6 separate regions of the Homo sapiens genome follow, and all the other regions are linked to region 2. The links come from fine-mapping of genetic effects on gene expression. A gene starts in region 2. Each other region holds a variant in brackets. All regions are shown on one strand. Distances are between the middles of the regions.

Evidence for each region. PIP is the estimated chance that this variant, and not a neighbour inherited with it, causes the effect.
Region 1: its variant is fine-mapped to the expression of ASB13 in whole blood (TOPMed, PIP 0.98).
Region 3: its variant is fine-mapped to the expression of ASB13 in T cells (TOPMed, PIP above 0.99).
Region 4: its variant is fine-mapped to the expression of ASB13 in whole blood (TOPMed, PIP above 0.99).
Region 5: its variant is fine-mapped to the expression of ASB13 in caudate (GTEx, PIP above 0.99). The same link has a PIP of 0.9 or more in putamen.
Region 6: its variant is fine-mapped to the expression of ASB13 in whole blood (TOPMed, PIP above 0.99).

The regions. Positions count from the first base shown.
Region 1 is chr10:5,722,351-5,727,355 of GRCh38, forward strand. TASOR2 (transcription activation suppressor family member 2) reads left to right here. Exons shown (of 22, transcript NM_001321783.2): 8 at 1,327-1,427; 9 at 2,080-2,183; 10 at 4,535-4,607; 11 at 4,711-4,773. Among named protein-coding and RNA genes, the nearest start is that of TASOR2, 40 kb to the left of the region's middle. The variant A/G (reference allele first, on the strand shown) is at 2,495.
Region 2 is chr10:5,664,156-5,669,160 of GRCh38, forward strand. ASB13 (ankyrin repeat and SOCS box containing 13) reads right to left here and starts at 2,440. Exons shown (of 6, transcript NM_024701.4): 1 at 2,354-2,440. The coding sequence starts at 2,396. RefSeq lists silencers at 2,024-2,073, 2,374-2,443.
Region 3 is chr10:5,758,610-5,763,457 of GRCh38, forward strand. TASOR2 (transcription activation suppressor family member 2) reads left to right here. Exons shown (of 22, transcript NM_001321783.2): 19 at 278-383; 20 at 2,681-2,862; 21 at 3,923-4,037; 22 at 4,420-4,848. The coding sequence ends at 4,423. Among named protein-coding and RNA genes, the nearest start is that of GDI2, 52 kb to the right of the region's middle. The variant T/TA (reference allele first, on the strand shown) is at 3,221.
Region 4 is chr10:5,636,447-5,641,451 of GRCh38, forward strand. It overlaps ASB13 (ankyrin repeat and SOCS box containing 13), which reads right to left. Exons shown (of 6, transcript NM_024701.4): 6 at 2,421-4,384. The coding sequence ends at 4,257. Among named protein-coding and RNA genes, the nearest start is that of LINC02677, 21 kb to the left of the region's middle. The variant G/A (reference allele first, on the strand shown) is at 2,475.
Region 5 is chr10:5,642,138-5,647,142 of GRCh38, forward strand. The region is part of intron 4 of ASB13 (ankyrin repeat and SOCS box containing 13); the gene reads right to left. Among named protein-coding and RNA genes, the nearest start is that of ASB13, 22 kb to the right of the region's middle. The variant C/T (reference allele first, on the strand shown) is at 3,013.
Region 6 is chr10:5,596,088-5,601,092 of GRCh38, forward strand. LASTR (lncRNA associated with SART3 regulation of splicing) reads right to left here and starts at 31. Exons shown (of 2, transcript NR_134491.1): 1 at 1-31. RefSeq lists enhancers at 1-233, 519-1,391. The variant A/G (reference allele first, on the strand shown) is at 2,572.

The DNA of each region.
Region 1 (5,005 bases), 58 kb after region 2:
GACGCTGAGGCAGGAGAATCACTTGAACCTGGGAGGTGGAGGTTGCATTGAGCTGAGATCGCGCCACTACACTCCAGCCTGGGCGACAGAGTGAAACCTTATCTCAAAAAAAGAAAAGAAAAAATTTCCTGTTTAAAGGAATCACACAGAGAGGTATGTGACATAAAAGGGCATCAGGTTTGCATCTTACTCCCAAAAGGTTCAGAAAAAAATAATGCGTGTGTATAGAGAGAGAGAATGACAAAGCAAACATGGTATACTGTTAATATTTGGGAAATCTGGATGAAGGGTATTAAAGAGTTCTTTGTCCTATGTTTGCAACTTTTGTATAAGTGTAAAAGCATTTTAAAATGAGTTTTTAAAAAGGAAACAGAGTGCCGGGCACAGTGGCTTACACCTGTAGTCCCAGCACTTTGGGAGGCCGAGGTGAGCAGATTGCCTGAGGTCAGGAGTTGGAAACCAGCCTGGCCAATACGGTGAAACGCTGTCTCCACTGAAAATACAAAAATTAGCTGGGCATGGTGCGGCATGCTTGTAATCCCAGCTATTCGGGAGGCTGAGGCAGGGTAATCACTTGAACCCGGGAGTCAGAGGTTGCAGTGAGCTGAGATCGCACCACTGCACTCCAGCCTGGGTGACAGAGCCAGACTCCATCTCACACACAAAAAAAGGAAAAAGTAGTCAGGAAATAACTTTTTTTTTTTTTTTTTTTTTTTTTTGAGACGGAGTCTCGCTCTGTCGCCCAGGCTAGAGTGCAGCGGCACAATCTCAGCTCACTGCAAGCTCCACCTCCTGGGTTCACGCCATTCTCCTGCCTCAGCCTCCCGAGTAGCTGGGTGGGACTACAGGCGCCCACCACCACATCCGGCTAATTTTTTGTATTTTTAGTAGAGACGGGGTTTCACCGAGTTAGCCAGGATGGTCTCCATCTCCTGACCTTCTGATCCACCCGCCTCAGCCTCCCAAAGTTGCTGGGATTACAGGCGTGAGCCACCGTGCCTGGCAAATAACTCATAAATAGCATAATTTTTTTTAATTCCTTATTCCTGTATACATAATTTTTTTGACACATCTAGATACTTTGTCTGTACTGAAAATACATGTATTGAGAAGATGTGAACATATTTGCAGACCATGGTTTATGGGTCATATATTTGAAAATCTGTACTACTTAAAAATACACATATTATTTAACCTGGAGCTTATCAACTTAAGGTCTTTTTTGTGGTTATATTTTTGTTTACATTTATATTAGAAAACCAAAACTTAAGAAAATTTAGATCCACTGTTTATTATTCTGCTTGATACTGTTGTGTTGTTTTTCAGACCGCAGGAACTAGATTTTAAATATGTAATGAAAGTGTCTTCCTTGAAAAAAAGACTACCAGAGGCTGCCTTCAGAAAACAGAATTACTTGGAGGAGAAAGGTCTGTTGAAATGTAATAACACGCTACTTGTCCTGGGCTTTGTTCTGGTTATTTTCTGCTCTCTTCCAAACACTCACACATGCACACTTCTGTTTCATCATAAGTGACTCTTAAAAGAGTCTTTTGTAAGAAAGCTGTAGAGTTACTATTTTCTTCAGTTCCTTGGAGGCCAACTAGAAACTGAAAGGTAGTTTCATCTAAGATGACAAAGGCTAGCTTTAATATAGAAATACTGATGCAATTAAGCAAGCAGATATTAAAAGCATTTGGAAACTTGTAACTATTCCTCTCGAGGACAGAGTTTTTGTTGGTTTTATTTATAGAGGTACTTTTAAACTCAAAGAAAAACCATGAGAAGGAAATTTCTTGGTCATTTAGGTTAATTCATGGAGCACTGATGTTTATTCATGTAGTATTTGTATTTGTCTTGTTAATCCTATAGCAGTGTCAGTATAAATAAGAGCATTGTTTTAAAATAACTATTTTGGTGATGTTTTATGAGGGAGTTTTATAACCAAGAACAGTAAATGATAAAGGTTTCTGAGTAGTATTTCTATTCTTTCATTTTTGCAACATATAAAATGAACAAATTGACTGTAAGTACATAATAGCGTATTAAAAATAAGAAATGTTTTTCTGGTTTTCTCTACAGTCTGTTTTCAAGATTTGTGCTTCAATTTGTATGAGGTAGAACTGTCAAACAGACAAGGGGAAAATATAGATAAATTAACAGAATGTATTAAAAACAAGCAATTGGTAAGCATCACTAATTTAAAATATAATTATTATGTTTTTCTTTAATTGATATATATTAGTTGTGCCTAGATGGCACATATATATATATTATATATATATATAGATAGATAGATAGATAGATATAGATATAGATATATAGATATAGATCGATATAGATATATATTAGTTGTGCTGAAAGGAGTTTCATGTTTAATATTTATTTATATATTATTAATGTAATACAGTATCTGTGGGGTATATGTTCCAAGACCCCCAGTGGATGCCTGAAACTGTGGATAGTACTGAACCCTATGTATACTGTGTTTTTTTCT[A/G]TACATGCATACTTATGATAAAGTTTAATTTATAAATTAGGCACAGTAAGAGATTAACAACAATAATAAAATGGAATAGTTACAACAATATACTGTAAGAAAAGTTATGTGAGTGTGGACTGTCCATCTCAAAATATTTTATTTATTATGCTATACTTGAGTACTCCTTGTGATGAATGAGGTAGGTGGTGCAGGCATTATGAAGTACTACTATTGCCCCAGAGGGTGGGTAGCATCTACAGCATAGATACACTGGACAAAGGGATGATTCACGGCCAGGCGTGGTGGTTCACGCCTGTAATCCCAGCACTTTGGGAGACCAAGGCGGGCGGATCACGAGGTCAGGAGATCGAGACCATCCTGACTAACATGGTGAAACCCTGTCTGTACTAAAAAATTATCTGGGTGTGGTGATGGGCGCCTGTAGTCCCAGCTACTTGGGAGGCTGAGGCAGGAGAATGGCATGAACCCAGGAGGCGGAGCTTGCAGTGAGCCTAGATCGCGCAGCTGCACTCCAGCCTGGGCGATAGAGCAAGACTCCATCTCAAAAAAAAAAAAAAAAAAAAAAAAAAAAAAAGATTGATTCACATACTGGGCAGGAGGGGCAAGAAGCAAGGATACAAAGTAGTGTAGTCCCTAAAGTCTGGCATGGTGGAACACATCTGTAATCCCATTACTTTGGGAGGCCAAGGTGGGAGGATCGCTTGAGGCCAGGAGTTTGAGACCAGCCTGGGCAACATAGCAAGATCTTATCTCTACCAAAATTAAAAAACTTTTTTTTTTTAAACTAGCCAGGCATAATGGCCTGCACCTGTAGTCCTGGCTACTCCGAAGGCTGAGGTGGGAGGATAGCTTGAGCCTGGGAGTTCAAGGATGCAGTGAGCTGTTACTGTGCCACTGTGCTGCAGGCTGGGTAACAGAGTGATACCCTGTCTCTTAAAGAAATAGGCTCTTAAATCATAGCTCCTGTAAGTCAAGGAGCTTAGGAGACTATGGAGGAGACAAATATGTAAGTCATCATGTGACATACAACACATAGGGGCTCTCATAGAATCTTGTTGAAACTCAAAGCAGTGATTCTTTTTGAGAGTGAGATATTAGTGTCATACCTTAATTGTAATGTAATAATTTAAAAAGTCTTATTTTGTATATTCATTGTGATTAAATAATATATTGATTTATATTTGTAGCCTTATCACCTCTCAGTTTTGAAATAAAATGTTCTGTAAAATGGTATATTTTATTTAGGTGGTTTAACTGAAAAATTATTGTACTAATATTGGATTTTATCTTTTATGTGTATATAGATTTTTGAAATGGTAAGCAGTGGAAAAGAAAAACTATTAAATTCATGATTTAGAACAACAGCTTTTAGACAACTTCTGCTGCCTGGGGACAAAACTGCCCCAGTTACTGAAAGCATTAAAATTTCAAGACTTTTTTCTTGAGCTCAAGAGTCCACTGAAGACTCTAATAGAGGGGAACAAAAGAGAGGAAGAATTTATTTTCATCTGTATTTCTTGTTGCCCTGGAACTTGATTATTTTCTGTTATTTTCCATTTCTTAAGATGCATAGAAAGAAGTATTCTATTGGATGGTATCTTGCAGTCTTTTTAGATTCAGCGTTTTGGGATAATTTTCATGTAAATATGAGCTTAAGATGCTACTTATAGGTTTGATTCATCGTGAGTTTATAATGACTACATGGTAACATATTGGCTGTTTAGGCAGTGGTATGAAATGTCAGCTGTCTCAGTGAAAAAAATAAGTCTTTTCTGATTGATCTGCCATGTTCTTGAGCACTGTTCTAAAACTAACCTTTCATGTTCTGGTTATTTTATATAGACCCAACAGGGCCAAGATTATTTCAGCTAAGGAACTTGAAGTTTCTGATACTGGGGACAGAATTACCCTGATTCCCATAACATTTGCAGAATTTTTTCTTTTCTTGAGGTCAATATTCACTAATGAGTATGGGTAGAGGGAGAAGAGAGGGATTGCAGAATATTCCTTCAGTTGAATTTTTCCTTTTTATTTAAGGCAATCATCAAATGCTTAGAAGATCGAGGGTTTTTCATTTTACTTACATCATCAGCCTTACTATCAGAACCAGGTATGGAGAACTGTTTTGGGAAAAAATATTTTTCATTATGTTTACTTTTGCTTTATAAGATCAACAACCTAACTTTTCTTCTTCTGATTCTCATTCTGCATAGATTTTGGAGGCAAGCAGATGGGTCTGCATGGGTTACATTTATTTCGTTCACCCCTGTCAACAGGTGAGGATACAATGGTTTCCAGCTCACTCTGTCTGTTGGATATATTTAGTCCTCATCTGACTTGACCTCTCAGCAGCACGTGACACTGTTGACTGTTTTTTCCTCTTAAATACCTCTTTTCTTAACATCACTGGTTCACCCTTCTTGACCTCCCTTGTAGGTTTATGCTTCCCTCTGAGCCTCAGTCCCATATCTCCACTTGTCTACTGACATTGCCACTGAGATATCTCAA
Region 2 (5,005 bases):
CTACCCCTGGGAGGGCACTGAACGCAAAGGGATGCGCAAATCCCCATAAACAACAGGAAGACACCCCTGCCCCACCCCCACCCCGGCTTCCCAGAGCAGCAGCAGGCAGAGCTGGAAGACCCAAGGCTGCAGGGCACACGTCTCCAAACACTGAACCAGGAGAGAGAGAACACAGGACTCATTGCTTACCTGAGGGGCCTAAGAAGACTGTCTGGGGATAAATTAGGGATTAGGCATGGAGAACACCGAACCCACAGGTAAACAAAAAGAACACCCGCCATGTCCAAGAAAAGCAAGACATTACACAAAAAGAGAAACATAGTCCCCACATAGCAAGTGGCTCAGCTGCAATATTCACAGTCACAATAATGTCAACACTGAAATCTGATTTAAACAAAAACAATTCTACTGGAGGACCCTGGGGGGAACGTACGGGGGAGTGGGGGAGCAGCCAGTAGGTTAGAGGTTCATCTACCACAGAAGGACGTCCATAGGGAATGCAGAATTTCTTTATTTCTTTATTTATTTATTTTATTTATTTTTGAGACGGAGTCTCACTCTGTCGCCCAGGCTGGAGTGCAATGGCATGATCTCAGCTCACTACAACCTCTGCCTATCAGGTTCAAGTGATTCTCCTGCCTCAGCCTCCCCAGTAGCTGAGATTACAGGTGCCCGCCACTATGCTTGGCTAATTTTTGTATTTTTATTTATTTATTTTGAGACAGAGTTTTGCTCTTGTCACCCAGGCTGGAGTGCAATGGCCCAATCTCGGCTTACTGCAACCTCTGCCTTCCAGGTTCGAGTGATTCTTCTGCCTCAGTCTCCCAAGTAGCTGGAACTACAGGCACCCGCCACAATGCTCGGCTAATTTTTGTATTTTTAGTAGAGACGGGGTTTCGCCATGTTGGCCAGGCTGGTCTCGAACTCCTGACTTCAAGTGATCCACCTGCCTCGGCCTCCCAAAGTGCTGGCATTACAGGCATGAGAGACTGCGCAACAGCCCAAAACCTAAATGTTTTGGTCGCGGTACACCACACATCCAGAATTTGAGGTCAGAATGTTAAAATTGTCTAAAGCTCCTACGGTTCGCCTCTGGTGCTGCTGGAATGGCAGTATTGTTTTGGATCCAACACATTCAGCTTATTCATTACACTGGGAATAAAAAACATCAGCAGAACTTATTTGGGGAGAAATATATTAAATAAAAAATGACAATGTCAAAAATACCAGTGAACCTCAAAAGTTGCGGATTCATTAGTTTAAAATGTGCCTTTCTTCTACAGATGCATTCCATAACAAACGATGCAGAAGACATGCTCAGAAGTGATGCCATGAACAGAAATATTAAAATATGTGTTTAAATAAGCTTCTGCCGTTAGCTATTCACTGCTTACTCAATTAAGCTAATCAAATGCAGATCACAGTGTCAGGGTCAAAGTCTTGTGCTTGCCTGGACTGGAATGCCAAGTAAAAACACATGCTTATTAGATACCTTTGATCATGTCAAAGGTGGTTATTTTGCAAAGTCAATTAAAATATCTTTGCCTTGCTATGACTGCAACTTCCTCTTCAGCTAAATTTACCCTTAAGACTTTTCCCTCTTAGGTGCACTACTGTTTTTACCAGGATGAATATGCTTTAGATTTTTTTTTTCTTTTTAGGCTTTCATAGTGCTTCCGTCGCTCATTTCAGTGACCATATTATTGCTTCATAGGCAGCAAAAAAATTTGCTTCCCCAAAGAGTGTCCTTCCCTCAAATCCATTTCATTCTTGGGCTGCTCGGATTTTGGTAAAGTAGGCTGCGAACTGGGATGGCACTTTTCGGAGTGTGCCGGGGTGCCCCAAGGCCACCTTCACTGGAGCGGAGTCGGGGTCACGCGGACGCCTCTGCAGGATGCTCGGACACTGCGCCACGGCCTCACCCGCGCCAGTGGAGGGGGGTTTAGCTCTTACCGTGGGCTCGCGCCTGGCTTCCCCGAGAGGGAGCACCGTGGGCGTTTCCCAGGCTCTCCCCCGCCACTGGGCAACGGCCCCGCACGCGTCCCGCACCTTCCCCAGGGCGCGCGGCGCTCGGTGGGTTTGCGGTTGCGAAACCCCACACCTGGCGAGCCGCACGGACTGCAACCCCGCAGTGCGCTGGCCTGGGACAAGGCACCAGACATGAGAGCCCGTCTGGGATGCGCGGCACCACTGGGACCCTGCTTTCACCGCGGCCCACCCCGCCAAACGCCCCCGCCCACGGAGCCAGCGCGGGGCGCGCCACCACCTCCCCGGCGCAGGCCATCGGATACGCGGCCGGCCTCAGGAGCCGGCGCCGCTGCCTCGCTCTGACCTCCGCGGCGCCCGCACGTACCCACGTCGCCCAGGAAGCAGCCGTCCGCCGCCCGGGGCTCCATGCGGCTCACCGGCGGCCGCGCGGCGACTCTGGGCGCCGGGACCTGGGCCGGGCCGCGCGGGGCCGCTGGGCGGGGCCAGTCTGCGCTGGGCCGCGCGTCGTCCCGAGGCGACCGAGCCGGGAGTTGTAGTTCCCGCCGCCTTGGCGAGGTTCCCGGAGGCGCTGTCCCTGGGTCCGGACTCCGCTGTCGCTGCCCACCCCGCTTCGCCCGTCGCGCCGAGGAGTGTGTGTGCTTGCATCTGCAAACCGTGCGTCCCGTGCACAGAATACGTCCGGTGCAAAACGTGTCCTGTGCACTTGTCCTATGTAAACGTGTGTGTCCGTGTGCAAAACATGCATCCTGTGCATATGTCCTGTGCAAAACATGCGTCCGTGTGTAAACTTGTATCCATTGTAAGCATGCTTCCCTGTGTCCCTTTGCAAAGCATGGATATGTGTTTCCATGTGCAAAACATGTGTCCTGTACAAAACATGCATCCTGTGCATGTGTCCTGTGCAAGCGTGTCCTGTGCAAGCGTGTGCAAAACATGTGTCCATGTATAAACATGTATGTATTGCAAATGTGTCCTGTGCAAGCATGTGTCTGTGTCCACGTGCAAAGCATGCGTCTAGCTTCCAGAGTTCACTTGCATTGTACAGATGCTGATGATGCTCCAGAGTACTCGAGTTCCCCCATGCTTTAACTTTCAAGAACCGCTTCCCACCAGAGCCGGTGTTCATAATCACTGTTTCTTTGATCTTTCAAGATAATAATTTCAAATCGTTCAAATCAATTTCTTAATGCCTTTTCTTTACGGGTGGTTTTTAATCCAATGTTCCCCTAAGCTGCTTAGCAAATGGAAGCTGGGGCACAACCTGGCAGAAATGAAAAACCTGTTTCCTGTTTCCGGAATAATACCCAGTCAACAATTGAGTAAGGGATTTTTATTTTATTTATTTATTTTTGCAAAGCAGCTTCCCAAGTTTAGAAGGTTTAACCTTGTGAAAGTTCACTGTAGCCCTGTCAGGAGATTCGTCACTCACCTGACCTGTACTGAACCTCCATGCAGAAGTTAGTTTGGGCTCAAAAGTAAAAGTATCAGGAATCATCCAGTCTGGAAATAGGTGAGGCCTGGCAGAGCAGCCAGTTTGATCTCTCACACTACAAAGCTTCTGGGATGACCCAGGTCTCCATCTGCAGTCCAGACCGAAGGCACTATACCTAGGGGACATTGAACCATATCTTTTGGAAAGCAGAGCCCCTGGAAATGTGGAGCCCCAGGCCTGGGAATGGAATTTCAAGCCATTTGCACTGGGCATTTAGAGCCTTTTTGCCACTTTCTACCAAAATCAGGCTCCTGCATTTTTCTTGCCGGTTTTCTGCACTTTTTACTAAATGTAACAGATTTTTGTATCGTTATATTTACCATGGATGTTATGTTTTCCCCTGTGGCAATGTCGTGTTTGTATGATTGCATTTTCTTCAATATTTCTTCCTGGACGAAGTGTCATCTAAATTTTAGTATGATCATGTAGAACATATATATATATGTGTGTGTGTATATATTCATATGTGTATGTGTGTTATCCAAGTGTTTCCTAAACATATTAATAAGCAAGTATTTGCTTATTATTTGTTTTTCCTCCATTCTGTTGCTTGACCAAAATATTAAAAGATTTCATTACAGAAAAAGCTTTGCAAAGTTTACATATATATTCAGAAATGCATTCCCTGAAAGTATTTCCTTTTTCTTCAATATTTAGAATGTATTTCCCCAGCAAGAGCCAGAAAATATAAATTATTCTGTTCTGTTCTGTTGTTGTTGCTAAGTCTTTGAGTCCCATCTGGAATTCACTGCAATGTGTAGAATGAAAATATAGGAGCTCAGTTCATTCTTTTCTAAACTGAAATAGAGTTTTTCCAAAAATATTCATTAAATAGTAATCCACTTATCTATTTTTGTGTTAATCTCTTTTTATTGCATGTTGGTTCCAATTACCTTTTGAATCTATTGTAAGAACCTCTATGATATTGACAAAGTTTCTATTACTCATTTAGCAAATATTTGCTGATTACCTAGCCTAAGGTCTGTGATTTTTAAACTAACTACCACATGTGGTTTTTTGTTGTTGTTGTTTTTTGAGACGGAGTCTCACTCTGTCCCCGAGGCTAGAGTGCAGTGGCACCGTGTTGTCTCACTGCCATCTCCGTCTCCTGGGTTCAAGCAATTCTCTGGCCTCAGCCTCCAGAGTAGCTGGGATTACAGGTGCCCACCACCACACCCAGCTGGTTTTTAAAATATTTTTAGTAAAGATGGGGTTTCACCATGTTGGAAGTAAATGTCATTTTATAAGATCATAACTTTTGTATCAGCATTTTAAAATCTGATAAGACCGCTATTTGGAAAGTGGTGTAGTTGGGGACCCCCTACACATTGTTAAATGAGATGTGTTAACCCCTGGTTTTTCTAATAAAGACAGTCTTCATACCACATTTTTAGAGTCTTCTAGGTCATAAGATACTCTTCTTTTGCCTCCAAAATAAATAGCTTGGGTGAGGACTAAATTTTTAGGAAATCCAATTCTATTTGCTTGGATAAGCCATTTTTCCTAAATTTACTAACTCGAGAA
Region 3 (4,848 bases), 94 kb after region 2:
ACAATTTGTACACAGAACTCTAGTTGCTGGTGACCACTCCACTGTGTTCGTGTCTACAGAGTTATCTCCCACCATAGTGTGAGCAGGTGGGACCAGGCTGAGGGGCTTGTGAGAGCAGGATGCTGCCCAACCACATAAGTGACAGTGATGGTGTGTACTCAACCATGGGTCTTAGTCTGTTTTTTTCTTGTTTTACAAATAATTATCACTGGGCTTGGCATGAGCCAAAAGTACCTTAAACTTGTCATCTTCTTTTGCTACATTTATTGTTTTGTAGTTCAACTGAAGGAAATTATCAAAATCCTGGAAAAACTAAATGGAAATGGAAGATGGAAGTGGTTGCTTCACTACAGGGAAAATAAAAAGCTAAAAGAAGATGAAAGGTAAGGACTTGCTGTGTGTATGGTTCCTCCTGCCCTGCTGGGGTAGCAGAGAAACGCCTCATGTTCCATGGGCTCTAGCCTAGTGCTGCAGTGGAATGGCCTTCATCAGTAAAGAGCATGAGGGCTGCTGGCTCTGTATTCAATGAAGGAAGCTATGTGCTGTGACCGTAGCCAACAGTATGAGGCATGTACTTATCTAGACTAACAGAAGTAAGGGAGTCAAACTTAGCAGTCATGAAATGTCCATATTCTATTTAAGCCCTACTACTACAAACTTTAAAAAATATATGGAACTTGTACCATTAATGCTTTTTTGGATACTTATAAGTTGCCACCACTTTAAGGAGAATGGAAAAATTAAGACCATAATCTATCCTTAATTCAGTTGTACCCTAAAAGAAGAGGCTTATAAATACGCAAACTTCACTAAGTCTAAAGCTGTAATTTATAAAAGAAAAAAATACATGTTTGATTCCTTGGCTGAAGAGAGCTGGGGCTGAGAGATTCCTCCACATTCTCACAAGCAGGACCAATTGGAAAAGCAGACCTGACAAGCCCTTGTGAAATAAGGATTTCAGGCACTGTTAGGTGCATCCATTTTCATTCAGACTTCATCCCCAGGAGCTAGATAGCAAATCCTCACTTTTATAATGCAGAACTGAAGCAGAGTAGATAACAAACATGACCAAGGTCAAACAAGTAGTAAGTTATGAAGCTGGGTTTCAATCCCAGAAAGACGAAACGACTGTTAGCTGTATGTGACCTTTGAGGAACAGAATCTCAGAAAGCTTTTCTCTTGAAGTGGAGCTAGCAAAGGAGAGAAGGAGCACAGAGGTTTCCTTGGCAGGAAAGGAGGGTGCAAAGGCTTCAGCAGGTCAAGGGTATGACCATTCACAGCGGACTTCAGTAACCAGCACTTGAGGGGAAAAACGTCAACTTCGGTAAGTAGAGAAGCACATTTAAGGTTCTGATGTACCACAGCACACCTATAAAATAAGCATAAATCAATCTAGCACTTCTAGGGCTTTGGGTAGAGAAAGTCATGTCACTTAACGACGGGGATACAGCCTGAGAAACGTCATAAGACGATTTTGTCTATGTGCAGACATAGAGTGTACTTACACAAACTGATATGGTAGAGCCTACTCCTAGATTGCAAACCTGTACATGTGACTGTACTGAATACTGTAGGCAGATTTAATGCAATGGTGGTATCTGTGTGTCTAAACACAAAAAAGGTTCAGTAAATTACAGTAGTATAATTTTATGGGACCACCATTGTATATGTGGTCCGTCATTGACTGAAACATCATTATGTGGTACATGCCCGTACTCACTGCTGTTGGCGCTGCAGTATGCTCTTCATATTATACCACTCTGGCATTATGTAACAGGCGTTATGTATTATTGAGAACTCATTAGAAAACTCTTCATATCCTTTGACCTTTTGTGGAATTTACCCAAAATTCTAGGTGGTTATCAGTCATTGCAAAACCAACCTCAGTTCCATCTCTAGGAGGGAGATATGCAGACTACAGTTAAATATTTTAAAGTTTATACAAAATAATGCCCACCCAAAACTTACACAATAGAAGCATGTAAAAAGTTTCTATTCATAGAAAGAGGGATGGCATAAAAGTTGGTATCATGTAACTATGTTCAGTATGATGTCATAAAAAATTTATACAGGAAAAAGTGAAAGGAAATTAATTCATGATGTTAAGAGTGATTATCACTAGGGTTATGGGAATGGGTGTGATTTGGGTTTTCTCCAACAAGCATGAGAATGTAAGTGATGAAAACTAGAGAGACGGGAGTCGAGCAGAGACAGAAATGCTAAAAATTTAAACATACTGAGTTAACACATTTTCCTAGTAGTGATAGAATTTTCAGGGAAGCAAGAAACCAAGAAAATTCTGGCTGCTACCTAATTTTAATGAAGTTGGCGATTATCTGCCCACAAGGTATGAGAAGTATAGATGTGCATTGCTCTACAAATATACAACGCAATAAGGCCCACTCGAAATTCATGAAAGGCTTGCCAAGCCACATGGCTTGATTGGTCGTAGGTAGATGCATGATGTCCCTCTTAGAATGAGGCCCATGTTTAAAATCCACATTTACAAAAGGAGTAGGTACAATTGTGATGTTTTGAGGTAACCAAAGTGTGTCATGAAAAAGAACGTCAAGAAGAAAGGCAGAGGAACTCATGAGTTTGAATGGTTAAACTGAAGGCAAGAAAAAGTCCTAAGAATAAAACTGAAAAATATTTTAATATGCCTATGTATCTTTCACAGAGTGGATTCAACTGCACATAAGAAGAACATAATGTTGAAGTCATTTCAGAGTGCAAATATCATTGAATTGCTTCATTATCACCAGTGTGACTCTCGATCATCAACAAAAGCAGAAATTCTGAAATGTTTGCTAAACCTGCAAATTCAGCATATTGATGCCAGGTTTGCTGTCCTCCTAACAGGTAATTCACAGGCGCATTTTACTCAGTTAATGCCAAAATTGGTCAGCTCTAGGAATGTCAAAGTTAGATACCTGATGAAGAGTATCAGGTATCTAAATGGCTTGGCATCCCATGGATACCAGAATCACCCAAATCTGCTGAAGCTGAAGCCCTTATATAAAATGTAGTATTTGCAGGTAACTACACAATCCTCCTATGTATGTAAGTCAGTTCTAGATTACTTATAATACTCAATACAGTATAAGTAGTTATACCGTATTATTTTTTAAATCAATACTGGGGCTGGGTGCAGTGGCTCACACCTGTAATCCCAGCACTTTGGGAGGCCGAGGCGGGCGGATCACTTGAGGTCAGGAGT[T/TA]AGAGACCAGCCTAGCCAACATGGTGAAACCCCATCTCTACTAAAAATACAAAAATTAGTCAGGTGTGGTGGTTCATGCCAGTAGTCCCAGCTACTTGGGAGGCCGAGGCAGGAGAATGGCTTGAACCCCGGAGGCAGAGGTTGCTTTTAAAAAATTTGTGGGGCAGCCAGGGACAGTGGCTCACGCCTGTAATGCCAGCACTTTGGGAGGCTGAAGCAGGTGGATCACTGAGCCCAGGAATTTGAGGCCAGCCTGGGCAACTTAGCGAGACCTCATCTCTACAGAAGTTGGCAGGTGTGGTGATGTGTGCCTATAGTCCTAGCTACTTGGGTTAAGGCAGAAGGATTGCTCGAGGCTGCAGTGAGCCGTCATCACACCACTGCACTGTAACCTGGGTGGCAGAACAAGACCCTATCTATCTTTAAAAAAAAAAAAAAAAAAGTGTTAAGAAAAATTTACGTAAAGAACCATAGTTATCATTTTTCAGGGATTTTTTTTCAGTACTTTAACCACCACCCCCGATGGAGGCATCTATTTCCAAAGCTTCAAATCTTTTCTTAATTTGGAACCCAACACCTTTTCTCCCCCTACCCCTCACACGAGGAAGTTCCACAGATTTTTTAAAATAAAAAACCAGGTCCTGTTATATAAAAGTACATTAATTATATTAACCAAAAGTTGTTTTTTTTTTTTTTTAACAGACAAGCCTACTATCCCCAGAGAAGTCTTTGAAAATAGTGGAATCCTTGTTACAGATGTAAATAACTTTATAGAAAACATAGAAAAAATAGCAGCTCCATTTAGGAGTAGCTATTGGTAAGAACACTTTTTATGTAACTTTCCCATGTGAGTTGGAGTTGTTGATGGCAAATATTGACATTTGTGTCTAAGGGAAACAGTTGGGAAACTGTTGTTTACATACTTCATGCTATAAATTTAAAGTGTTTGTTTAGGGGTGGAATTGCTATTTGGCATAAATAGGAATTCCTAAATTATCACTAAATGAAGTAACCATCTACTAAAATTACCTATTTTATCTAATGTGCATTTTCACTTGCTGTTAACTTGGATCGTCAGTACAGAACATAATGTAACCTTAGAATGCATAGGCGTTTTCCCCATTAGAGCATCCCGCTTATAAAATATTTCTTGTTCGTATTATTTTAAGAAGTTCTTTATCAATTTTGTGTTTCTTCAGGTGACTCAACTACAGCCTGCCTGGATATGGATGATGCCAATAAAAAATTAGTATTTTCCCTTTGGAAAACTTGTGAACATGTGAATACACATGTGAACAGTCTTACATTTGAAAAACCAATGTTCTACAACTTGGAAAGTTTTCATTTTTTATATTTTGCTGAAATATGTCACAGTGGCATTGCAGTTGTCTGTTAGCTTTGGGTTGCAGTGCTAGATATTGTTTTAAATTATTTTCATTTTAAACAAGATGCCTTCTAAGCTATTGAGCTTATTAAAAATAATTTTACATGTTTACTTAGTTGGAGCAAAAATAAGTCTATTTTAACAAATAGCTTTGTTTTTGCATGCTAATGTCAGAAAGGCATACGATGCACATTATGCTCTGTTTTAAAGGTTTTACCACCCTTGTAAAAACTATAATCTTAAA
Region 4 (5,005 bases), 28 kb before region 2:
GTGCTTCGTATCTTTTTTTTTTTTTTTTTTTTTTTAGAGATAGGGTCTCACTATGTTGCCGAGGCTGGTCTCGAACTTCTGAGCTCAAGCAATCCTCCCGCCTCAGCCTCCCAAAGTGCTGGGATTACAGGCGTGAGCCACTCTTCCTGGCCAACATCACTTTTTAAGAAATGCAATACAACAGAGGTGAAGTTCCCTGCGTTCCTATCCCCAAGCCACTGGTATCCCCATGATGCCAGTGTGTGGTTTCCATGATTTTATGTATTTACTGCATACGTATGAATTATTAGATGGGCTTTTTAAAAAAATTATACAAATTGACTCATACCATACACAGAAAAGTCTGGCAATTGTTTGATCGACCACTATATTTTTGAGATCTATTCGTGTTAAAACGTGTAGTTCTAATCCATCTTAACTTTTATCGAGTGTAGGTATGACATGTAAGATGTATATGATATTCTACATCTTACTCCCAACTGGTGGGGTTTTCACTATTACAGGTATCGCTGCAGTAAACAACCTCATACATGTCTCCTTGTGATATTGCCTGAGAGTTTCTTTAGGGTATTATTTATATAAAGTAGAATTACTGGGGACAAGGGGTATGCACATTTTTCATTGCATTAATATCAGCCAATAGCTCTCCAAAACAGACCTATCATCAATGTATTCCCCACTAGCAGCCTGTGCATTTCCATTTGCCCACATGGCCCACCCATCCACACTGTGAAACTCAGACCTTTCAATGACTGTCTCAATGGCGACATTCAATGGTAATCACTTTGTTGAATTAAATATTAATTTGAATTTCCCTGATCACTTCTCAGCATCCTTTCCTGGGAGTGGACATTTCAAGATCCCTCTTTTATAAAGCCCTGTTCTTATTCTTTGCCCAGTTTTTTTCTATTGGGTTGTTTATCTTTTCTTTTTTGTAGAAATGGGGTCTCTTTAGGCTGCCCAAGCTTGTCTCAAACTCCTAAGCTCAATCCTCCAGCCTCAGCCTCCCAAAGTGCTGGGATGACAGGCATAAGCCACAGCACCTGGCCCATTTTAATGATCTATCATAAGATCTTTATATATTTTGCTTGCCAATTACTTGTTATATATGTTGCAAACATCTGCTCCAAATCTGTCCACTGCACACTGCATTTGAAAATGTAAACTGAGAAGTCTTATGACTGCAGGACTCCTGAAATAGATGGTATGATCTTAAGGCGGGAATAGTTCACACAGCTGCAAGATCTACAAACATCAACAAAACCACACAACAGTCAATGTAACTTTCATATTTGGGGACCACTTTAGGCTTTTCAAGGCATCTTTTTTTTTTCTTTTTTGTGGGGACAGAGTCTCACTCTGTCTCCCAGGCTGGAGTGCAGTGGCACGATCTTGGCTCACTGCAACCTCCGTTTCCAAGTTCAAGCGATTCTCCTGCTTCGGCCTGCTGACTAGCTGGGATTACAACCATACACCACCACAGCTGGCTTATTTTTGTATTTTCAGTAGAGACAGGGTTTCAACATCTTGGCCAGGCTAGTCTCAAACTCCTGGCCCAAGTGATCTGCCCACCTTGGCTCCCCAAAGTGCTAGGATTATAGACATAAGCCACCCCACCCAGCCAAGGCATCTTTCAATCATTTAATTTCAGCCTCATAAAAACCTGAGGCGGCCGGGCGCAGTGGCTCACACCTGTAAACCCAGCACTTTGGGAGGCCGAGGCAGGAGGATCACGAGGTCAGGAGATCGAGACCATCCTTGCTAACATGGTGAAGCCTCGTCTGTACTAAAAATACCAAAAAAAAAAATTAGCCGGGTGTGGTGGCGGGTGCCTGTAGTCCTAGCTACTCAGGAGGCTGAGGCAGGAGAATGGCGTGAACCCAGGAGACGGAGCTTGCAGTGAGCCGAGATCGTGCCACTGCACTACAGCCTGGGCGACAGAGCGAGACTCCACCTCAAAAAAAAAAAAAAAAAACACAAAACCTGACGCTGGGGACCCAATCTCGTCCACCTGAGGTGACGGGCTTGGCTCAGTGGTTGGTCATCAAGACCCCTTCAATGCTCCAAGTCTGATCCATTATCTCGGTTTTGCAGCTTTCCGGAACAACTCAGAGTAGAGAAGCAGATAAACCTGTGTGCAGTCACAGCCCTGCATAAGGGCAGGGGAGGACCCAAAATCCCAGTCACCTGGTCCCGTGGACAGCGTCTGTCTCCCCCAAGAAAAGTCCACATAAGGGGGGTGCTGAAGTTGGCATCAGGAGACCTGGGGAAGAGATGGGAAAGTGTGGCTCCCTGGCAAGCACAGCGCTGCCAAACGACCTGGGACACAGCAAGACGAGAGCCACCCCTCTCCATCCACACAGGATGCGCCCATCTTGGTGTTTCTGCCCCATAAGAAAAGAGTCGTGTGAACACAGGGATGCACTTTATTCCGCCACTTTTATTGAGCAACAGCCGTGGGGACCTGATTCTGC[G/A]CTAAGTGCTCTACTGTGAGACATCACAGGTTGTCATTGCTAGAGGCAAGAATCTCTTACAAAGATGAAAGGGCAGAACCCAGTGCTTTTTTTAATGGTTGTTATTCCATGCAGAAACACTGACTGATCCAGAACTGGTAACTAAGGCGGTGATCAAACAGGAATGCTTTTCTTCTCAGTTTAGGACGAAGACCCGCCATGACAATGGCGGGAACGCTGGAGTAAAACCTCACGGCGGCCAGCATGAAGTTTTTCGCCAGATTTGTGGCCCCACCCCCAAGTACCCACGCGGAGAGGCCTCCAGTCATACAGCACAAAGGGCATCGCCTTGGGCAGCTCAGGCTCACTCTGTTCCACACTGTCTGCGGTGGGAGGCTCGGGCCGGCCTGGGTGCATCCAGTGAGTACCACGTTCCCTTTTCCCGGCACACTGTCTCCAGGACAGGCGTGACCTGTTCTCCAGAATGGGTAGAGATGGGGTTTCATCAAGTTGGCCAGGCTGGTTTCAAACTCCTGACCTCAGATGCCCCAGAAACCACTCATCCCTGAACTAATCATGCAAAGTCCTCCAGTTTAACTCCCTGTTGTGGGCGGGGTTCTTAAAATTTATGAAGGCAAAGACTCCTAGGCCGGCCCATGCAGTCTGAATACGCTACCGAATGCTCCACCTATGGCTTATAATGCAGAACGACCTGTTTCTATCACTGCAGGACGGGATTGCAAGATTTTCTTATCCTGCCTTGGCTGCAGAGTCCCATTCCCGTCCAACTCAAAGCACTGGGACAATGCTGGATGTGATAGATGGTCTTACTAATTTGATAGCTTCAAGGAGTTAGCAAACTGTAGGGTGGGTGAAGAATTCATTTGACAACCATAGAAACAGATGAAAAACAATTCCCACAGAGTCTCCAAACAGGCCTTTGCACTGAGAATGCCGAGCCACGAGAATATACACCTTGACACACCTTCACACTGCTGTCGGTTTGAATGGCTCATTACCAAAACCTTAGTGGTACCGCCTACGTGTCCTCTAAAAGGTTTTTATCCTACATATAAACTTTTTACAAGAGTTGGAGACCTAATACTGAAGACAAATTTCCTAAGAAACTCAGTGCTACTTGTGGGGAATACAAAGCCAGGGCCTTCCCCCACAAAGACCCATAGAAAGTCCCTGAGTGACAGATGCGCGCAGGCTTGGGGCTGGGGGATGCCTTGGAAAGTGCTCCAGGAAAAGCATCCACACAGCAGCCAGCAGAGCAGCAGTCCCAGGCCACATCCCAGGCCGACCTTCCGTGGGCCCAGCCATTCCCTATGAGCACCGAGGGCAGTCCTGGTGCCGACCCGGAGGTGGTGGCCTGCACCTGGGGCCTGTGCATCTGCGGCAGGCTGCCCCGGTGAGTGAGAATCAGCAACAATGCCCTCAGTCCCCAGCTCTGCCAGCCTCCTCTGTGCTCCCCACGCCGTCTGTCCTGAGAGTGCCTTTGAGGATGGTCCGTAAAAGAGGAAAACTGGATGGTTGGGCCCATGCCCATTGAGAGGGTAGGTTCTGTAGAACAGCGCAGGGCCACACCCACAACTGTGACCTGAGACGCAGGCCTTCCCAACACCCTGGAAACATTATCCAGGATCCAGGAGAGAAGCCTAAACAGGATCGCAGGAAGGGACTCGAAGGAGCGTTGTTCTATCTACAGCAATCACGCTGCTTCAGAGGAACAGGCAGAGCCCTCACCCGGGCAATGCTGGGCACAACGGGGGCAGCCACGGTCCGGACCCCACCTGCAATTCAGTTGTAGGAGAGGTAATCAATGAGCCGGGGCGGGATGTTTAACTTGGCAATCTTCTCCAGCCCTCGGACGCCAGTGGCCTTCCTCAAGTTCACCCTGCAGAGCTGTGACAGAGTCAGAGGTGTCTCTGAAAAAGGGAGCAAGGAAGGATGTGAGGTTAATTTCAGGAAGAAGCACAACACCTGCAATGGAACACAAACTCAGAGGGAATCGGAAACGCCTCCCTTTCCCCTGGAACCGGGATGTGTCCTGTAGGCCTTCTCTGGAAGGACAGCCAGGAACCCGAGGAAGGGAGCCCAGGAAATGAAGTTCGGGGCATGATGTCCACTGGGATTGCCTTTTGTGGGCTTTGGGAGTTTGTTTGGTTTTGAGGTTTTTTGTTTTTTGTTTTTTGAGACAGAAAAAAAGCGACAGAGGCAAGAATCTCTTACTCTGTCACCCAGGCTGGAGTGCAGCGGCACAATCTCAGCTCACTGCAACCTCCGCCTCCTGCATTCAAGCAATTCTCCTGCCTCAACCTCCCGAGTAGCTGGGATTACAGGCACCCACCACCATGCCCGCCTAATTTTTATATTTTTAGTAGAGATGGGGTTTCATCAAGTTGGCCAGGCTGGTTTCGAACTCCTGACCTCAGGTGATCTGCCCGCCTCAGCCTCCCAAAGTGCTGTGATTACAGGTGTGAGCCACTGCGCCTTTTCAAAACCATGGTTTTGGTTTTTTGAGACACGGCATTATATTTCAGCACCCA
Region 5 (5,005 bases), 22 kb before region 2:
ACTACTTACTGTCCCCACTCATGAGAGATAAAGGTAGGCAGCAATAATAAAGAAATAACTAGAAATAGAACCGAAAAGAAGAAAAATAAAACGAAAAATGTCCTGAGTTAAACAACCGTTCTAATGCCCTATCAATCTGCCTTCAGGGGTCCTGAGATTTCCGGAAGCTCAAACCAGAGCCACTCAAGCACTCCCGCCTGGCCTCCAGCACAGACACACACTGCTTCTTCCTCTTGCGGGCCCAGGACGGAGGCTCCAGAAATACTGGTTGAATGAAAGAATAAATGTTCCTTAACAATGCATATTCTTTTACAAAAGGAAAACAGATAACGTACCCAAAACAGTAGGCAATTCAGAGAAGAGAGTAAGCTCTGCACTCCTCAACTTTCTCACGATAAGAGCAGACATTCATCAAGCTGATTAAAAGTAAAGGTAAAAAAAAATTTTTTTTTAAAAAAAAGAGCAGACATTCAGAAAGATGCAAGGAATTAGTAGCTAAATATGGCTGGTTTTGGGTTTTTTTTTTTGAGACAGAGTCTCACTCTGTTGCCCAGGCTGGAGTGCAGTGACATGATCTCGGCTCACTGCAACCTCCGCCTCCAGGGTTCAAGCGATTCTCCTGCCTCAGCCTCCCGAGTTGCTGGGATGACAGGTGTGCCACCATGCCCGGCTAATTTTTCTATTTTTTGTAGAGACGGGGTTTTGCCGTGTTGGCCAGGTTGGTCTCGAACTCCTGGCTACGGGCATGAGCCACCACACCTGGTCACATATGGCATTTTGCAACACACTAAAAAAAATTTTGATAAAAATATGATTTTTGTAACACATCATTCTTAGGGCACAGCCATCACTGATCCGATACAATGGAATCCCCCAGGGCTTCAGAATTCTTTTGAAAGAAAATGCCATTTTATTCGAAGTCTGTTCCTCAAGTAACAAAGGAGGTTATAAGAGAAAACAAATAAAAGAGAAGTGTTTTAAAGAAGCCAAGCAAATCGCCCAGCATCAGTAAAATAATTCGCCAAATGATAGATTCAAACCACAAACATAAAGTATTATCAAAAGTGGGATTTTAAAACAATCAGACACTAGCATGCCATCACTTCCCGACAGTCTCAGAGGGTCAAAAGAGGAGCTGAGAGGTGGAACGCTTTTACATTTTCTAGTTCCTCTAGCTCAAAAAGCATCGGAAAAATCCCGCTTTCTGCTTTAAAATATTTTAATCCCCTAAAAGCACATAAGAACCATGCTCATAACAGCATTCGTGGAGGGATCCTAAGAACGCCCCAGCCCTCCAAAGTGATGACATAATTTAAGAAAGTTCTTTCCACTTCCCGCAGCCAAAACTCAGAAGTCAGAACAGGAAAAGGATCTCTCAACTAGGAAAAATGCTAACTTATCTATGTCCTGAATTTGGCAGAAATGTACTACAAAAAAATAATATTCAAAAGCAATAGATTAAAGAAATATTTCCCCACAATTCAACCTCTCTTTCACATAAGGGGTTTTCCTCCAGTATAATGTTGCAATCATAACACGAAGTAAATTTTAACACTAAACATATGCTTGTAATGAAAAACAAATTGTACCATCCACAGAATCTAAAGTTCAAGTAGCTTTCTCTCATGTCATTAATTCTGGCAATATTCTTGCCAATTGGGAGAGAAAGAGATGGTCTCTATTTTAACAAAAGAAGAAAAACAGAGAAAGAGGCCCAAGGGAGGCACAGCTACTCTCTCACGATCAGGGAGAAAACCATGGCTGGAAAGAGCTCTAAAAATCACGCTCCCTGCCACGCTCCACAGACGAGGCCTTGGCCAGGGGCTCTTGCAGGGAGGCAGCCTTCCCAATGTACATCTTTTCAAAATGTGTGTTTGGCATCATTTGATTGGGTGGAAGGGAAGGAAGGTGAATAAGGAAGGAAATGAAATTGTGAATAAGGGATTGAAGGGAAACACCAGGCCAGGGGTGCAGGCAGCTACATGGATGGATCCTGAAAGTATAGCACTGAGTGAGCCAAGAAGAGAGTCAGAGATGAAACTCGATCAGCTATGTTCATTAAAAATATATGCTTGGGCCAGGTACAGGGCTCACGCCTGTAATCTCAGCACTTTGGGAATTCGAGGCGAGCGGATCTCTTGGGCCCAGGAAATCGAGACCAGCCTGCGCAACATAGTGAGACCCTAGCTCTACAAAAATTTAAAAATTACCCGGGGGGCGTGATGGCACACATCTGTGGTCCCACCTACTCTGGAGGCTGAGGTAGGAGGATCACTTGAGCCCGGGAGGTTGAGGCTGCAGCAAGCCACGATCGTACCACTGCACTCCAGCCTGGATGACAGAGTGAGGCCCATAGTGAGAAAGAGAACATAAACAGGTACTCGTTAGAGGAAAACAGGGCCAGACACGGTGGCTCATGCCTGTAATCCCAGCACTTTGAGAGCCTGAGGCGGGCAGATCACCTGAGGTCAGGAGTTCAAGACCAGCCTAGCCAATATGGTGAAACCTCGTCTCTACTAAAAATCCAAAAATTACCTGGGCGTGGTGGTGCACATCTATAATCCCAGCTACTCAGGAGGCTCAGGCATGAGAATCGCTTGAACCAGGGAGATGGAGGCTGCAGTGAGCAGAGATCACACCACTGCACTCCAGCCTGGGTGACAGAACGAGACTCCATCTCAGAAAAAAAAGAAAGAAAGAAGGGAACAGATACAGAGGAAAGAAGGAAGAGAGAAAGAGGGTAGGAGAGGGAAAGAAAGTAACTTTGTGTGAAGCAAGGATGGTAACATACCTTGAACTGAGAGGCAAGAGAAAGACTGAGGCAGAGACAGAGACACAGAGACAGAGAGAGACAAAGACAGGGAGCCAGGAAACAAGCAGGGAATTAAAAGCTCTGAACTTCGTGCTTCAGAGAAAAGGGGTCAACACAGGCTCATTACCAAAATCCTGCTTTCAACACAAAATAGGATTAAAGTGGATTCAGAGAACCCGTGGCCAGTGACGTGACGGGAC[C/T]GCCTAAGACCTTAGCACGCCAAGACTGGCACAATCCTGGAACATAAACACAAATAGCTCAATAGGTGCTTGTTACCACAAGAGAAATTGAAAAAAAAAATTAAATTTAAAAAATTATAATTAAAAAATTTTTTAAAAATTAAACAACAATTTTAAAAAAATTTTTTAAATTGTGCCAGGGCCAGTGCTAAGAACAAAGGTGGAAGCAGGACCGTCCTCAGGGAGCCGCTTCCGAACACTCCTGGCAGAGTTCAACATTCACTGTCAGTGATCAGATTAAAAATTACTTCACCATCATAACCGGACTTTCACCCTCCCCAGCCCTCCTCCTTTGCAAATACAATCTGGTTCCTGGACTCGCCTCACTGCCTACAAAGAACAAGAACAACGGTCTCCACGTCCCCCGTGGGGTGCAACGTGGCTCTGCCTCACAGCTCAGCTCTCAAACCGCACATGAAAGCACCTGCACTCATGTGGGCCCCGACTGGTTCAATCCCTCTCCCCTCTCCACAGTAACTGGTTCAAATGATCCAGGCTTGAGCCGATCAGAATTTGGCAAAGTTTGGGCAAAGGGACTGGGGAGGGGTGCAGGAAAAGGGACTTTCCACTCTTCTGTTTTTCTAGAGACACGGTCCCTGGCTTTCCTTTGGTTTCCCGAGGGATCTGTGACCTGACCCCAAAAGATCAGAATCACTACTTTTTAAAAATCTGTTTGTGAGGACGTAGGGGATGCTGTTGTTTCTCTCTCCTCTGTATGTTTGAAATTTTCCGCAATGAAAAAATGGTTTCTAAGAAGAAGATGATGATCCATCTGCTCTCACAAGGGGTACTAGAGGAGACCACCCAAGAGTAGGATGGGAACCAGGAATCCCGCGTGGAGCTGATGGCTGGATGCTACCCACAGCATCGAGCCAACACCAACAGTCACTGTGCGGAGGCTTCCCCAAGAAAGCCACGTTCACCTCTAACTCCCCAGGGGCATGCAAACTCCCGGGGAGAGCTGTGGGAACCCCACTTTAGGGCGACAGTGGGCCTCACAGCTGCCCCTTCCTTTCCAGCCCCCACCCCCGACTGTGCTGCCACCTGGTAATGTGGTGGGGGCGGGAGCAGACCTGACTTCAGCTCCAGCGTGGGTCCCGCCTAGTCCAATCCCTCTCCCCTGACCACAGTAATTAGTTCTAATGACCCAGGCTTCAGCCCATCAGAATTTGGCAAAGTTTGGGCAAAGGGACTGGGGAGGGGTGTGTGAAAAGGGATTTTCCACTCCGCTGAAAGAGCCTCCAGAAGGCTTAAAACAGGAAACGTCTGGCGTGTAGGCCTGAAGCCACTGCAGCCCCGTGACCTTGCTCAGGGAGGCCGGAGGCTTAGGATGAAGCCAATACTGAGGAAAGCAGAATCGCAACGTTCAAAGAAACTGAGGCCTGGGTGACACCACGGAACCTCCGGTCCAGCCGCCCCTAATCCTGCTCTGCGTCTCAGCCCTGAAGTCACCTGAACTAGAAATGCCCGCCATTGTTTACCAGTGGAAGTGGCTTCCTGTTACTCGCAAAGGTGTCCAACTGACATGAAGTCCTAACTGATACAGAAAGGATGTTTGCTTTAAACACTAAGTTGATCCCTTTCCCTACAACCACACCAAACAGAACGAAGGTAAAAATGGAACTCGTGTGTACTGAGCTCATAAAGGCTTGATATGAACGCACTGCGCTGTGTTCATAGAAACGGATCCAGCTGCCAGAGGAACGGCTCGGCTGGAAACGCTTACACCTGCTTCCAATGGAGATACTTCTAAGACAGTGTATAAAAAAATTAAAAGTACCTCAACAACTATTCCTACACAAAACGAATCTTTTCCACTAAAAAGACTGAAAAGTGGCACATGAAAGTGAGTAAGATTCTCCAATAAAAAACTACACATAACTAAGCTCAAATGGCTGTCATCAGGGGGAATTCATGATCTTCCTGTTCCCAAACAGGTTTGTTCTTGTTGTTA
Region 6 (5,005 bases), 68 kb before region 2:
CTCTTTTGTTTTCTGCAAGTGATGGATGGACGTACTTTGAAGGAAGTTCAGCCTGATAAGTCATTTCCTCCCCCGAAGGCATCTGACTCACCTCTAATTCACCTCCCATGAGGCTGCTCAGGACAGACAATGTGGATTTTTTCCTGAGTTGTAATATACTGTGGCTTCTTCACTCAAGCCCCCACAAGTAGCTTTGCCTGTGCAGGAAACCCAGGCTGGGGCCCTCGGGGCTTGCCGTCATCCTGCTTTTCTGCAACATATCCACCCATCTCCCGTTTCCACTCCAGGAGAACAGAAGGGTGACGCTGCCCAGACTCACAAGAGCTCGGGGTCCAGCTGTGGGGTGCAGCCAGGACCCAATGCCATGTCTGATCCCCACACGGGAGACCACCAGCCTGCTTCGCAAAGGAGTTCAAAGGAAGCAAGCACCAGCCAGGCGAGACACTCATCCAGCTGTGAGCATCACGGCCTAAAGGCAACATGCAGGGGCTCTTTCCCATTTTTAATGGAATCTTAACTGTCCACCAACCACGTCTTCCAGATTTACCCACAAGGCTTGACAGCGTCAGAGGAAAGAAAGGAGATTCTCCCATCCCGTGCTCTTCTTTCTCTCTGCTGGGCGGTTGTGTGTACAGAGCGCAGGCCACCACACACACACACACACACACACACACACACGCATACACACATACACGCACACGCATGCACATACACACATACACACATGCACATACACACATACACACACATACACACATGCAGAGTGCAGTTCGTAGTGGCCATGCATGAGCAGCCCCATCCAGGTGGGCAAAGGGAGTGATGATGAGCAGCCTGGGCCCGAGCTGTGGTCAAGACAGCCCTGCCCCATCGGTTTCAGCCACCCGGAGCGGCCGCCCCACCCGCCTCCTGCAAAGAGGTGAGCTGCCCCTGCCCACTGCTGCTCCAGCTCACACCCGTCATCCGTGAGCCATTACTGACTACCTACAGGGTGCGCCCGCCGTGGTCTGCATGTCCCACAGAAATTACCCAGGGCTGGCCCAGCGGCTCCCAGCAGACGGCCAGGCATGTGCTCCCAGGGGCACTGGTCCTAGACAGATGAGGACACATAGGGACTGACACCCCTGAAAACGCCTGGGGCAGCAGGCGAGTCACCAGGAGGAGGACTCAGGAGCCGGAAAGGAAGGGCCCATCCCTGGAAGCGTCTGAGCAGAGGCTGGGCAGTCCCAGCAGGGCAGTGTCAGAGGGGACTGGAGGCTCCAAAGCTCTGCTGATGCTGAGACCCTATGAGGCTGTGTCCCACCAAATGAGCCTGCTGAGCTCACAGGCCTGCGTCCCACCAACCGGGAGTGCTGGTCCCACAAGGCTTCATTCCACCAATGGGGCCTGCTGAGACCCCATGAGGCTGTGTCCCTTCAACTGGGCCTGCTGACGAGTGAGCTAGAAGTGGATTTCCTGGAAATGAAATCCATGCCATGACCTGAGAAAGGAGAGTGGCTGAGGAGAGGGCAGCAGGGGATGCCCCCCTCATGGGGGGATGCTCCCCACCCCTCCCTTTAGTACTGAGGGACCCCAGCAGCTGCAGAAGACCAGGGACCAGGGGCCGCTGTCATGGCCTGTGTTGAAATGTGAATGCCTCAGGTTTCCTCTCCCTGAATTTTCCCCTTTCCTCTTCCCTGTTTACCTTTCTGCCTCAATATCCCTGAGTACAAATCGCAAGGACACCAACAGCGGCTTCAGTGGGTCCTTGTGTGAGCCAGGCACATGTACTATTATCTCATTTAATCCTGAGGGAGGCGTGAGGCAGGCCGGGGCAGAAACAGCCTGCACATTTTTCTAGCTTTTGGTTCTAAAACCCCAAGCCCCTGGGAGAAAGGGGAAGGTGGAGTGGGCAGAGAGGGCTTGAAGAAGCTTGAGGGGAGAAGGATCTCCCCAACAAGAGATTAATCAGGCCTGATAGGAAGCAGCCAAGGGAGAGGTAGAAACAACAACAGAGGGAAAGAGAGAGAAGGAGAGAGAGAGAAGAATGAGAGAAAGAGAACGAGAGAACAAGAGAGAGAGGAGAGAGAAAATGAGAGAAAAGGAGAACGAGAGAGGAGAGAGAGAGAAGAACGAGAGAGACAGAACGAGGGAGAGAATCAGAGAGAAAGAGAACAAGAGAGAGAACGAGGGAGAGGAAAGCAAGAATAAGAGTGAGAAGAGAGAGCAAGAACACAAGAGAGAGAAGCAGAGAGAGAGAGAAGAACGAGAGAATGAGAGAGACAGAATGAGAGAGAACAAGAGAGAAAGCGAGAGAGAGGAGAGAGAATGAGAGAGAGAGAAAGAACGAGAGGAGAGAATGAGATAGAGATGAGAGAGTGAGAATGCAAGAGAGAGAGGAGAGAGAGAGAAGAACGAGAGAGAGAGAACAAGAGAGAGGAGAGAATGAGAGTGAGATGAGAGAGTGAGAATGTAAGAGAGAGGAGAGAGAAGAACGAGAGAGAGAGAACAAGAGAGAGGAGAGAGAGAACAAGAGAAAGAAGAAGGAGAGAGAACAAGAGAGAGACAGGAGAGAAAGAACAAGACAGAGAGAAC[A/G]AGAGGAGAGAGAAAGAGAACAAGAGAGAACGAGAGAGAATGAGACGGGAGAGAGAGAACATGCACCCTGGGGAACTGTGCCCATGTTCTCAGCTCCTCTGAGGGACAGAGCTGAACTCTGGAGAGGGCAGATGGACCCCCCCACCTCCTTCACCTCCTGCCCGGGAAGCCAGAGTGCCATGAGACCAGGCCTCGGAGTCTCAGCTGCCCCCGTGCACACAGAGCATAAAGGCCCCACAAGGAAATGAGGGCCCTGAGACCCCCAAGGTTACCCCACAGTCTTTGGGTGGAGAAAGCCGGGGAAGGACTGACTGGAATTTCCCAGGACCCTGCCACCCGGACCTGCACTCAGATGTCAAGTTACTACAGGAAAATAAAGTGTGCTCTATTTCTTCTGCAACTGAGTTTTTGGACCAGCATTTACATATGCGACATTTGTTTTTAAATTCCCAGCTTAACACCTGGTAGTTCCTCAATGCATGTTTATCGAACGACTGCGTGGGCCAGAGTCAAAAAGAGTGCTGCCGGAGAGGCAACAGAAACATACGATTGGCCAGTGGTTCTCAAAGTGTCACCGAGGAACAGCTGAAGGGTTCCAGATCCTTTCATAATAATCCTAAGACACTAATTGACTTCTTCATTCTCATTCTCTCACAGTGAAGTTTCCAGAAGCTACATGACACGCGGTTCAATTCCGATTGAATGCGGAAGGAGATATGACAACCTTAACGTCCTCTATTAAGCCATACATTAAAAGGACTTGCAAGATGTAAAATAATGCCCTTCTTTTCACTGAATTCTTTTGTCTTGAAAAAATATAATTATTTCCTATAAGAATATTTGATGTTGGTGTGCAACAGGTTTATTAATCGACTGATAGATTAATACATGCATATTTTTTAAGTTTCTCAGCTGTAATTGTTAATGCAACATACATTGATAGATGCGGCCATATAAACAAGAGCTCCTCGGGAGCCTCAGTGGTTTTTCAGAGTACAAAGTGAGTCCTGAGACTACCTTGTTTGAGGATCACTGTAATAAACAAAGAGCAGTGCAGGGGCGAGCTGAAGGGGACAGTGGCTTTGTCGCTGACTGTTTGACCTTGAACAGGCTGTTTGACCTTGAGTAGGCTGTTTGACCTCTGGCCTCATCTACCAGTGGAAGATGCTGAGCAAACGGGTCCCAAGTCCCCTCCACCTTTAACCACCTGTAACTCTTGGTTCTTTCACAGCAGAGGCAGAGACTGGGAGCTCAAAAGGCCAAAGGGGCCCTCCCCGAAAGCCTGGCTCCCTGGAGCACACCGTGAGAATGCCACAGCATCGGTCTGCTGGCGAAAAATAACCGCCCTGAGACCTGGGGTCCGAGCACTTCTCCCAGGGCCCGGAGGAGAGGGGTGATGTCAGCGCCCTGCAGCCGGCGGCATTCCTGGGCGCACAGGTCTGTGGGTGATTGCTCAGGAATCCGCCATCCATTCATGCCTCCAGAAATGTCACCTCTAATCCATGCCTGAGCACAGAGTGTTTGCCTGTGTGTGTGTGTGTGTGTGTGTGTGTGTGTGCACCACACTCCATCAAATGCAAGAAGTAATCCAATTTAGGCTCTTACGTCCTTTCAGGGAAGACTCACAGAGAAACAAAGCTCCGAGCCCTGTGTTTCGGGAAGTCACCCCTGTGTTGTGGCCTCAGCAAGCAGAAATTTGAAGGAGCAGGTGGGGGTGTGAGACCCAGCAGTGATGGTGCCCTTCCCGCCTCCTGGCCAGAGGCCCTCCTGCCCATCCCTCCCGGAGCCCACGCTGTCCTCCGTGGGGCTATTGGAAACCTACTCTGAAACTGTTATAAATACTCAATAATAAACAAACATGAGTTATTTCTGAAATGTTCCCAGGAATAGCCAACTGCCCAAATAGCCAAGGTTGTTCTTCAAGTCCTGGGAAAAATAGAAATGTGGGTATGGTTTATTTTTCCTTTGCTCAAAGCAGGATCCTTGGTCACACACATCTAATTTTAGTTTTCTGTTTCTATTTTGTATGTTATCATTGTGTAGCCCAGGGAAAGAGAGAAGAGAGGGGTGGGAGAGAGACTGGGGAAGAATGAGGGGGAGAGAGAGAGAATGAGCATGAAGGGAAGACGGGAGGAAGATTCTGGTCTTCAGCTCTTGCTCCTGTGATAACATTTGGAAAAACAACAGTGTAGTCTTCAATATTTCCTTGGCCCTGCTGGAAGTGAATTTTAGAGACCCAAGATGGTGGGTGAGCCATAGAGAAATGTTATAAATTTCCAAGTCTCCTCAAAATCAGATAATAAGTGAAAATGTAGATAGCTGGAAAAAAAAAAATAAAGGGAGGCCACGATGAAGACCACAGCTCACCCAAGGCATCAGAAAAGGAGTTTCCAGTGAGCAAGGAGGGTCTGGAATTAAGACGTTTTGGGGCCAG